Regions from separate parts of the Homo sapiens genome. Here all the other regions are reported to be linked to region 3. Evidence: microRNA targets listed by miRTarBase, many of them from high-throughput screens and not tested one by one. Region 3 holds a microRNA gene; each other region holds the end of a gene's coding sequence.

Region 1 (3,252 bases), not on the chromosome of region 3:
GCAAGAAGTGTCAGAGGTGGGAGAAGTGGGGCTTTGAATTCGTGGCTCTCTAAGAGGACAAGAGGGGTGGGGCCTGAGTCCCAGAGGGTGGGCCTGGGGAAGCTGGATCCTGGAAGGTAGGAGAAAATAGGAATTTTCACTGAGTTTGAGTGGGAATGGAACTGACTATATATCTTACCCTTCCTCCTCTTTAACTGGGCTCCTCCCTCTAAATCTAGGCTGCTGTATTTATGAGAAACCTCGGGCCTTTGGCGAGAGCTCCACGGAAAGTGATGAGGAGGAAGAAGAGGGCTGTGGTCATACACACTGTGTACGTGGCCACCGCAAAGGACGGCGTCGTGCAACCCTAGGACCGACCCCCACCACCCCTCCCCAGCCTCCTGACCCTTCCCAGCCCCCTCCAGGGCCAATGCAGCACTAAATCCCTCTCTCCTCCAGCATTCCTGTGTCTGTCTGGCCCTAAATGTATCCATGTGGCTACTTCTCCAGCCCCCTCCTTCCCTCTCTTCTGCCTGATAGAGGGAAGAGGAAGAGGAGGACGAACAGAGATCCTGAAATTCTGACTTGCTGCTATTCCAGAACCCAGCCTCCTGGGTTTCCCCAGTCCTCATTTTTCCTCCCAATACCCACCCTTCTCTCTCGAGGGATCTAGGCACCTTGGTCCCAGTGTCTTCCTTTTGTTCTCACTGCCAAACTGCCTGTCCTGGGATCTAGTTATCTTGGCCCTGCACTCTCAACATGAGTAGCGAACACTTAAATTGGGTTTTCAACAGTCCCAGCTTTCACTGCCAGGGTCCCAGTCAGATTCCAGGAATTTGCGCCCTAACTTTGCTTGCTAATCCTGGTTTAGAGCTATCCCACTAAAATATTTAATCCTAATTCTTAGTCCTTGCCTGTGAGATATGAGGTCTTACAGGAGACCTCAGAGCTCCCAGCCCTTCTCCTCCTGCTAACCCTTCTCACACCCTCAAGAGGAGTTAGAAAAGAGGTCCTTGTCATTCTCACCTCTTATGGAAAATGGAATAAGAAATAATCATATCCTTTCTTCCCACCCTTCTCCTGTTATTTAGGATTTCTGACAAAGCTGGCTTGAGATTGGTCACTTAGAGCCGACTGTCTCCTCTGCCTTTTGTTTTTCAGCTTCAGAGACAGATCCAATATAGTCCCAGGGACCTGGGTCTCTGGGAGAGGAAGGAAGAGGGAGGGAGCAAAGAGATTGGGGTATGTCCCCTGTAGTACACTCTTACCTCTTACTTCCTAGACTTTGATTTCTCCGGCAGCCCAGATGTTCAGTTCTCTTGGCCCCTCTCTACCCCTTACTGGGATCCGGTTTTCATTTTCCGGTCCTTTTGCCATACACAGTTACAGAGATCAGTCAAATCCATACCACCACTGAGATCTCATTTATTGCCACAGATGCACAAAATAAATAACCCAAAATCACAAAATGTGTTAAATATGGGCCCATTTATACTTATGGGGAAGGGTGTGAGACTATACACAAGGATGAGTTTGGAGATGTCTGAAGTATTCCCAGGTTGAGGAGGAGAGAGGGGAAATAGCACCATTGGTTCCTTTCCGTGAGTATGTGCGGGGAGAAGTTTCAAGAAGGTTCTTATGGAAAAAAGGCTGTGAGCATAGAAAGCAGTCATAGGAGGTTGGGGAACTAGCTTGTCCCTCCCCACCCCCAGATCCTGCAAAAGAGGTACAAAGCTTCCCAGAGGGCCACAGGGCCCAGACCAGAGTCAAGCCTCTTGTTTTAGGAGAAACCTCAGTGGACAGGCAGGGTAGCCCAGTCCTTAGATCTGTGGGGAAGGCCCTGAGCCCTTCTGGAGCTAGGAGTGGCAAGAGTGGGAGTCAAGTATTTGACCAGCAGAGCCTCTATGTAGGAATCATGGTCACTTTACCAATACTGATGGGGAGGGCCTGTTCCCCATTGCAGGCCTAGAATGGTTTGAATGGGAGAAGTCAGGAAGTACTGTAGTAGCTGTAGGGGAGAGAAGATTCTGAGAGCCAGAAGGCAGGAATGGATTTGGTTTTGAGCAGGGACGTGGAAACGTGGAGACCAGGTGAGGTCTCATTATTTTGGGGCGAAAATGTGGGTTGCTATTAATACTCCTGCAATGGGCGTGTGAATGTGTTCCCAGAAATGAGTGGGGAATTCCACCCCCAAAAAGCAGCTGCAGGGCCAGTGGCCGGGCCAAACTTCTAGTTGGAGACGAGACTCAGCTTTCCGCTGGTACAATGCGGAGCGGAGCACGAGGGTCGCAGGTGCAGAACAGCGGGAAGATGCGCTCCCCCAGGGGGCCAGGCGCCTGGAAGGCGTAAAGCAGGTCGAGTGAGCGGCCGTCGTAGAAGGCCACGCGGCCCCGCTCCCAGTCCAGGTCCACGCGAATGCGCCGCGGCGGGGGCTCAACACCGCCCAGCAGGGTGGGTTCGGGTGCCGTGAGGGCCCACAGGCGGCCGCCGCGGCCCTCCACGGCCCACACGGCCCCCGCAGGGCACAGCCTTACGCAGCCCTTGCGTTGCACTGATTCCCCGGCCGCGCCCACTGCATAGTGGCTCTCCTCGTCGTCCGCATCCTCCCCAGAAGAGTCTCTGCAGGAGGCGGCGTCCGCAGTCTCCACCTCCCAGCAGTGGCGGCCGGCCCCGAAGCCCTGCGCACCCAGCACAGCTGGGAGCTGATCGAAGCGCTTGGGGCCGTCAGGGGGCGCGGGCGTCCCTGGTGGGGCCAGTTGTACGCTGCGGCGGTCGGCGGAGATGAGCAGGCGGCGGTGTGCGGTCCCAGGGTCCAGGGTCAGGTCGGCTGGAGACGGGGAGGCAGGGAGAGGACCTCATGAGAGAGTTTTCTAAATCACAGGCGGGGTAGGGTGGAGAATAGTCAACGAAGATCACGTAAAAGACTGAGAGCTAGTGACCACACAACAGCTCAAAAGGCGACTGCAGGACCAAAAAGAAGGAAGGCATATGAAGAGCAGACCTGGGCAATATCAGACCTTGTACTGATGCACCACTTCTGTAGAATTGGACCTGGGGAAGGATCATACTGGCCCAGTGCAGGGAGCACAGCAGGAAGATCAAATGAGAGGTTGTCTCGTTTGTGGGGTTGGGGGAGGAAGAGTGAGGCTGATCTGACTTCGAGGGAGGAGTAAGGACTGATACCTCAATCTGCATCATCTGGGGTGGGGCATGGGAGCTGGGTCAGCAAAATGGGGAAGGTTCATCTAAAGAGAAAGTCGTACTGATACTGGA
Region 2 (3,212 bases), not on the chromosome of region 3:
GTTTAATGAGCCTTATGGGGTATCATTAGTAACAGGTTAATGAAAACAGGCAAAGGTCCTGCAACTTGTGTCCGAGCCTGTTCTTTTTGCCATCAGGTCGACGCCCACGGTAACATTCTCCTCAGCACCCTGGAAATCCGGAATGAGACGAGTGGCTCGGAAGTGCTCACGAGCGTGAGCGACCCCAAGGCCACCATGTACTCCTATGACAGCGCCAGCATCCAGTACCGCAAGCCCCTGAGCAGCCGCGAGGCCTACGGGCGCGCCCTGGACCGGCACGGGGTACCCAGCAAGGGGCGCATCCGCAGGCGTGCCTCCCAGCTCAAAGTCAAGATCCCCGACTTGACTGATGTGAATTCCATAGACAAGTGGTCCCGAATGTTTTTCCCCATCACCTTTTCTCTTTTTAATGTCGTCTATTGGCTTTACTATGTACACTGAGGTCTGTTCTAATGGTTCCATTTAGACTACTTTCCTCTTCTATTGTTTTTTAACCTTACAGGTCCCCAACAGCGATACTGCTGTTTCTCGAGGTAAGAGATTCAGCCATCCAATTGGTTTTAGGTCTTGCATATCAGTTTTATTACTGCACCATGTTTACTTCAAAAAGACAAAACAAAAAAAAAATTATTTTTCCAGTCTACCGTGGTCCAGGTTATCAGCTCTTTAAGAGCTCTATTAATTGCCATGTTTACAAACAAACACAAAGAGAGAAGTTAGACAGGTAGATCTTTAGCAGTCTTTTCTAGTTTCCCTGGATTTCACTGATTTATTTTTTAGGGAAAATGAAAAGAGGACCTTGCTGTCCGCCTGCACTGCTTCCTGGTAAACTATAACAAACTTATGCTGCCAAAAAAAAAAAAAAAAAAACATAAAAAAAAACACACAATTTCCAGGATCTCAGAAGAAAAAAACAAAGCCATTGACAAGTTACAGATTTCCAGGAAGAAGGCAAAAGAAAAAGGAGCTTAGACAGGGAAGGAAGAGTCCCCTCTATCCTTAAGTTCTCCCATGTCCGTTGTAAAAGGGCTCCACAGCTCCACAGAAGAAGAGGGAAGGAAGGACAAGCGCTGGTCAAGGTTATGCAATCCCAACCTGCCATCTTCACTGCACCATTAAGCTGGATATTCTGAAATATGCTTCTTTCTCGACTTTCCGGCAAATTTTAAATTAACATTAGAATCCAACCTGGTCGACCTGGTAGCCATTGAGAACATTTTTCTTTTTTTCTTGAGAATAAGGAGCTTGGAAGGCAATGACCATTTTTCTAACTGGCCATTTCAAACATGCAGCCCTGAATTCATCTCATCAGCCTGGAACCCCCTGATGCTGTGCCAGGAAGCCATGCCACCCCAGTTCCATAGTTCCTGCTCCAGAGAGTGTGGGAGGAAGGGGATGGTGAGCAATTTTTGCTTGAGAAAAATATTGCCCTTGCCATTAGGAAGGCAAGATTTATGTGCTGTGAAAAGGGTGCCTGGGCAGTTATCTGAACTGCCAAATCTTAAATCAAATAGTATATATTTCTTTGCCTTCTAGAGAGCAGTATCTAATGGTGACAGGCTAGTCACACAGGCCTCAACTGGCACTTCATGGCTCTGCTCTCTGAGCTCTGCATTCCAGACTGGAATGAATGCTTTGGAAAATGCACAAATACCCATGTTGATGTCATTCCCCTTCAGGACCAGAATTCCATTTTAAAGAAAATCTTGAAAATTGCAGAACTACAGATAAAAACAAGAGCGATGAGAAAAGCAGTGGAGCTTCCAACACATGCACCAGTCCCTAAAGAATAGACCCTGTCTACACTCATTAATCACTGTCATTGCTCCTCTGCTTTATCTCCGCTTGTGGATTACTCTTGGTCATGGTTCTCATAGAAGGGGCATCCTTCAGTAGCCCAACACAATTCTAAACATGTCCAACCAGCTACAGTTGAGATTCTTCCCATGTTATATCACTGAAACCTTGTCATTTTATTTTTCAACCTCAGTATCTAAGAATTCTGTATGTTCATTTGCAAGACTGAATGAAACTGTAAGCTAACCAAACACTGATGCAGGAGGTTTGGGACCTGACCCATGAATGTGAAATAAGGGTTGAGGTAATAATAGGGACGATTGCCTGGCTTAATGATCTAGCTTTTTCCCTAAGACTGTGATGGGGTCCATGTTTACAATAGCATCAGCTTCTGGAAATTACAGTCTTCACCGGACAGATGATGCTGAATTTTTACTGATGAGCTGAAGGGGAGAAAGGTACAAGATATTCTTTTAGAAAGCAAGAGGAAAAGGGAACCTTAAAATAAATGAATAGTTAAGGCTGAAGATAATATATATACAAAAACTCTGCTTTAACTGGAAAAAATGATCTCAGTGGTTTCATGATAGGGACCACATTTTTATTTAGATTTTTAGTTGTATTATCACACTTTCCTGGTCAAGGAAATCTCCAGCCTTAGGGTATGAAGTCATCCATTTTGAAACTCTTCAGTCCCTTGGCAGGGTGAGATGCTTTGCCATCATAAAATGGCCATATAGAGTGGCATGTGGCCATGTCAGTGATTGTAAGGTTAATATTCCGTAATGACCGCAAAGGAACCACTGTGCAGCCATTTATCTTAAACACAGGAAGGAAAATTGTTGGCTGATGCCTAATAAAAATGAATCATTCTGGGTGTCAAAGCTCTTTTAAAAGCTTTTAAGAATGAAATGCTAAATCAGAAAGGAAGTATCTGTAATCTATGTTCCTTAACAAACAATTTATTTTTATTTATCTATTTAGATTATTATTCTTGGGAAAGATTGAGAATATTTGTATTTTTATTATTATATTTTTATCTTGTCTTTAAAAAATCTAACGATTTTGATGCTGTAGTTTTAGATGTAAAGCATCTTCTGAGAAAAAAAGAGAACATTTTGAATTCATATCTTAACCTTTGTAAAATGTAAACTTATTAAGCCTGAATCTACCCATCAGGCACAAAATGGTGTCACCATATGCCCTCCTGGGCAGTAGAGGGGCCACAGCCAGCATTATAAAAATCCTGGTAAATAGCTGATTTTAGAGGCAGTGGCAGCCAGAAGAATGGAGAAGCTGCAATATTTATGGTTAAAGACCTCTATCCCCACTTCTTTCTGGACACCTGTGGGCCAAATTCTTCCCTCCTTGGCCCCACTCCTAGCCAAGTCCTCCCCTTTCAGGCTGAACAGTGA
Region 3 (3,252 bases):
TATATAATTTAAATAATATACCATAAATACAAATTTTCAATGCAAAACCTCACAGTTCACACACAGAAATGTGTTGGGTGTGACTTGAGCTTAGGCAGCTGTGGCAGCAGGGGCAATGCTGCACCTGGTGCCATTGTCCTTACTTTGTATGTCCCTCAAGGGCTGGACATATTCCAGTCCTCGGAGGGCCTTATCTCCTAGGGATTTTCTTTCTTTGGGACACAGGTGTAACTTACTAAAAGTGTGACTCTTATAAGTCACTCCCCTCCCATCGTACCTTGTCTATAGAATGAGGACAGTAATACCCATCTCCTAGCTCATCAACTTGACCTCACAGTTGTGAAGATCAAGTGAGGTGCTGCTAATCAAAATGCCTGGGAAGGTTAGAGGTCATATAACCACCTCGGGAGCCTTGTGTGTAAATCGCTCAGCAGCTCTTGCTGGAGTTCAAGGAGATGACAGTTCACTCTTCTTTCCCCATCTGCCTCAGCTGCCCCACGGATGAAACCGTCCTCGTGCATGAGAATGGGAGAGATCACAGGGCAACCTTCCAATTCAATGCTTTCCGGTTCCAGAACATCCCCAAACTCTCCAAGGTGTGGTTACACTGTGAGACGTTCATCTGCGACAGTGAGAAACTCTCCTGCCCAGTGGTGAGCTGCCTCTCTCCAGAAGGACAATGTTACCTAAAGGGTGCCAGTATTGGAGGAGCTGGAGTTTGAGTGGGGAGATCATAACCAGGCCAGGGCAGCTGTGTGCTGAGGACATCTGGAGGAAATGGCACTGAGTATAAGGGCAGATGCTCGTGAGGGCAGATGCTCAGGGCCCTATCTGCCCTGCCTCCAACAACCCACATGGTCTGGCATGTGTCGCCTAACCTGCTGGGACCTGCTTTCTCATCCTTAAGCAAAGTGTGTTAAGTAATGATGGCCCTTCCCTCATCAGAGGGCAGTGTAGGTAAATGAAAGTGATAACAGACTTGGAAATACTTGGAAGAAGTGAAAAGGGCAAGGGAAATTCAAGGTCTAGGTGGCAGGGACAGGCCGTGGAAATAACTCAAAAGGTGGGTGTTTTTAGTCTTGACTGAACAGCCCGAGGGTTCACCTCTGTGACTTCAGAGAGATGCTGCAGAAATTCCCGACACTGGATCATGGCTGATTTGACCACGTGAGAGGAAGGCCTGGGCAGGCTGTGCTTTAACAAGCCAGCAGTCATGCCGGTGCTCACTCAAGCCTGAGAACCACCACTTAGACACTTAGACATGCCAAATCTCAAACTGTTCTCCTTTCTGGTCTCTTTCAACTGGAGACCTCGGTGTTTCCAAAGAGGCTGCTATCCACATAGCCTATAGTAACCAACAAAAATAAGGTCATAATCTCTATTGCTGTTGTTTCATTTGGCCAGAAAATGGTTCTTTATGAGCACAAACAGCAAAAGGGAAAGAAACCAGAGAGTGCAGAGCCAGGGAGAGGAGGGGAGAGACACTGTACAGTTGATCAAAGGATAAGTATCAATGCCATATTTTTAAAAAGAAAGAAAAGAAAATGAACCAGAATACAATTGCAAGTGTCCACTTCTCTAATTATTGTGGTGAGAGTGGTAAGTAGAAGCCTTATCAAAGGAAATGGGATCAATCCCTTCCACACTCAATGACCTCTTCCAGAAGGATTCCCTCTGGCTTGAAGAGTTAACAAAGTAAAGCTTTCTCTTTGTATTCAAGTTGGAGAAGGGATGAACAGTGTGTCTTCTGGGTTATTTTTTAAAAAGGTAACTCATCTCTGTTGACTGGGGAATTGTGACTCCACCCCATTTGTGACCTTTTTAAAATATCTTTTCTTTCTCTTTTCTCCCCTTTGCTCACGCATCATCCCACCTTCCCCGCTTCTCTCCTGTCTGCCTCTCTGGGTCTTCAGACCTGCGATAAACGGAAGCGCCTCCTGCGAGACCAGACCGGGGGAGTCCTGGTCGTGGAGCTCTCCCTGCGGAGTAAGCGTCTCTGTTTTCCTCTGTTTTCCAAACGGTTGAGTTCACGCTGGGCTGCGTCCACAGGCACAGCCGGTTTGAGCATTTTTACTGAATTGCCAAACCAGTCGTGCCTGTGGGCACAACCTTCACCTGCTCCTGGAGTCTTCCAGCCAGGGGTGGGGAACAGCTCAAGCCAAACGAAGGAGTTGAGGTTTGTTATCTACTCTGAAAGTTCTAACTGCACCCTAAATTCAAATACCCCCAAAGAATCAGGAAGTGCTGAGCTTCCAAACAGAGCATGCAGTGAACAATAATAATAGAAAATGAGATGTCATGGGGCCGGGCTCGGTGGCTCACGCCTGTAATCCCAGCACTTTGGGAGGCCGAGGTGGGCAGATCACTTGAGGTCAGGAGTTTGAGACCAGCCTGACCAACATGGTGAAACCCCACCTCTACTAAAAATACAAAATTACCTGGGCTTGGTGGGGCACGCCTGTAATCCCAACTACTCGGGAGGCTAAGGCAGGAGAATCACTTGAATCTGGGAGGCAGAGGTTGCAGTGAGCTGAGATCGCGCCATTGTACTCCAGCCTGGGCAACAAGAGCGAAACTCCGTCTCAAAAAAAAAAAAAAGAAAGAAAGAAAAAGAAGAAAGAAAGAGAGACAGACAGACAGACAGAAAGAAATAAAGAAAGAAAGAAAGAAAGAAAGAAAGAAAGAAAGAAAGAAAGAAAGAAAAGAAAGAAAGAAAGAAAGAAAGAAAGAAAGAAAGAAAGAGAAAGAAAAAAGAAAAGAAAAGAAAGAAGGAAGGAAGGAAGGAAGGAAAAATGAGATGTCATGAGAATGTCATGTGCAAGTCAAAAAACCTTTACTGAGTATCCAGCACTGCCTGGCCTGGCAGGGCACTAGGATTTCAGAAATAAATGTGACCCAAGCAGGCCCTGTCCTCAAGGGATTTACTGTCTAGCAAGGAGAGAGATGTTAGACACTAAGGGAAAGAGAAATTACTGTTAAGGAGGGTGACAGTGGGCTGGTGCCATGGTTGCACAGTTGATCATCACTAATGTGAAAATCCAAAATCCGAATGCTCCCAAATCTGAAACTTTTTGAGCACCCACATGATGCTCAAAGGTCATGCTCACAGGAAATGCTCATTGTAGCATTTTAGATTTCAGATTCCAGGTTTTCCAGTTAGGGATGCTCAACTAGTATAATGCAAAGATTCCAAAATCCAAAAAAAAATCTGAAATCTGAAACACTTCTGGTCCCAAGCATTTTGGATAAGGG

Evidence for each region. Region 3 holds the annotated microRNA hsa-miR-6715b-5p (ACAGGCACGACUGGUUUGGCA, at 2,080-2,100, opposite strand). A microRNA usually pairs through its seed, bases 2 to 8, with sites in the 3' UTR of a target mRNA and lowers its output. Matches are read on the target gene's strand: a 7mer-m8 pairs with bases 2 to 8, a 7mer-A1 pairs with bases 2 to 7 and ends in A, and an 8mer does both.
Region 1: miRTarBase lists PPP1R11 as a target of hsa-miR-6715b-5p. Seed matches in the 3' UTR shown: 7mer-A1 at 510-516.
Region 2: the mRNA of GABRB1 is a reported target of hsa-miR-6715b-5p. The part of its 3' UTR that is shown has no 7-base or 8-base seed match.

What each region holds. Positions count from the first base shown.
Region 1 is chr6:30,068,886-30,072,137 of GRCh38, forward strand. PPP1R11 (protein phosphatase 1 regulatory inhibitor subunit 11) reads left to right here. Exons shown (of 3, transcript NM_021959.3): 3 at 219-1,448. The coding sequence ends at 421. It overlaps RNF39 (ring finger protein 39), which reads right to left. Exons shown (of 4, transcript NM_025236.4): 4 at 1,385-2,806. The coding sequence ends at 2,226. Among named protein-coding and RNA genes, the nearest start is that of PPP1R11, 3.3 kb to the left of the region's middle.
Region 2 is chr4:47,425,578-47,428,789 of GRCh38, forward strand. It overlaps GABRB1 (gamma-aminobutyric acid type A receptor subunit beta1), which reads left to right. Exons shown (of 9, transcript NM_000812.4): 9 at 97-870. The coding sequence ends at 441. Among named protein-coding and RNA genes, the nearest start is that of COMMD8, 37 kb to the right of the region's middle.
Region 3 is chr10:112,297,579-112,300,830 of GRCh38, forward strand. MIR6715B (microRNA 6715b) reads right to left here and starts at 2,110; the gene lies at 2,034-2,110. It overlaps TECTB (tectorin beta), which reads left to right. Exons shown (of 11, transcript NM_058222.3): 8 at 491-653; 9 at 1,914-1,986. It overlaps MIR6715A (microRNA 6715a), which reads left to right and starts at 2,034; the gene lies at 2,034-2,112.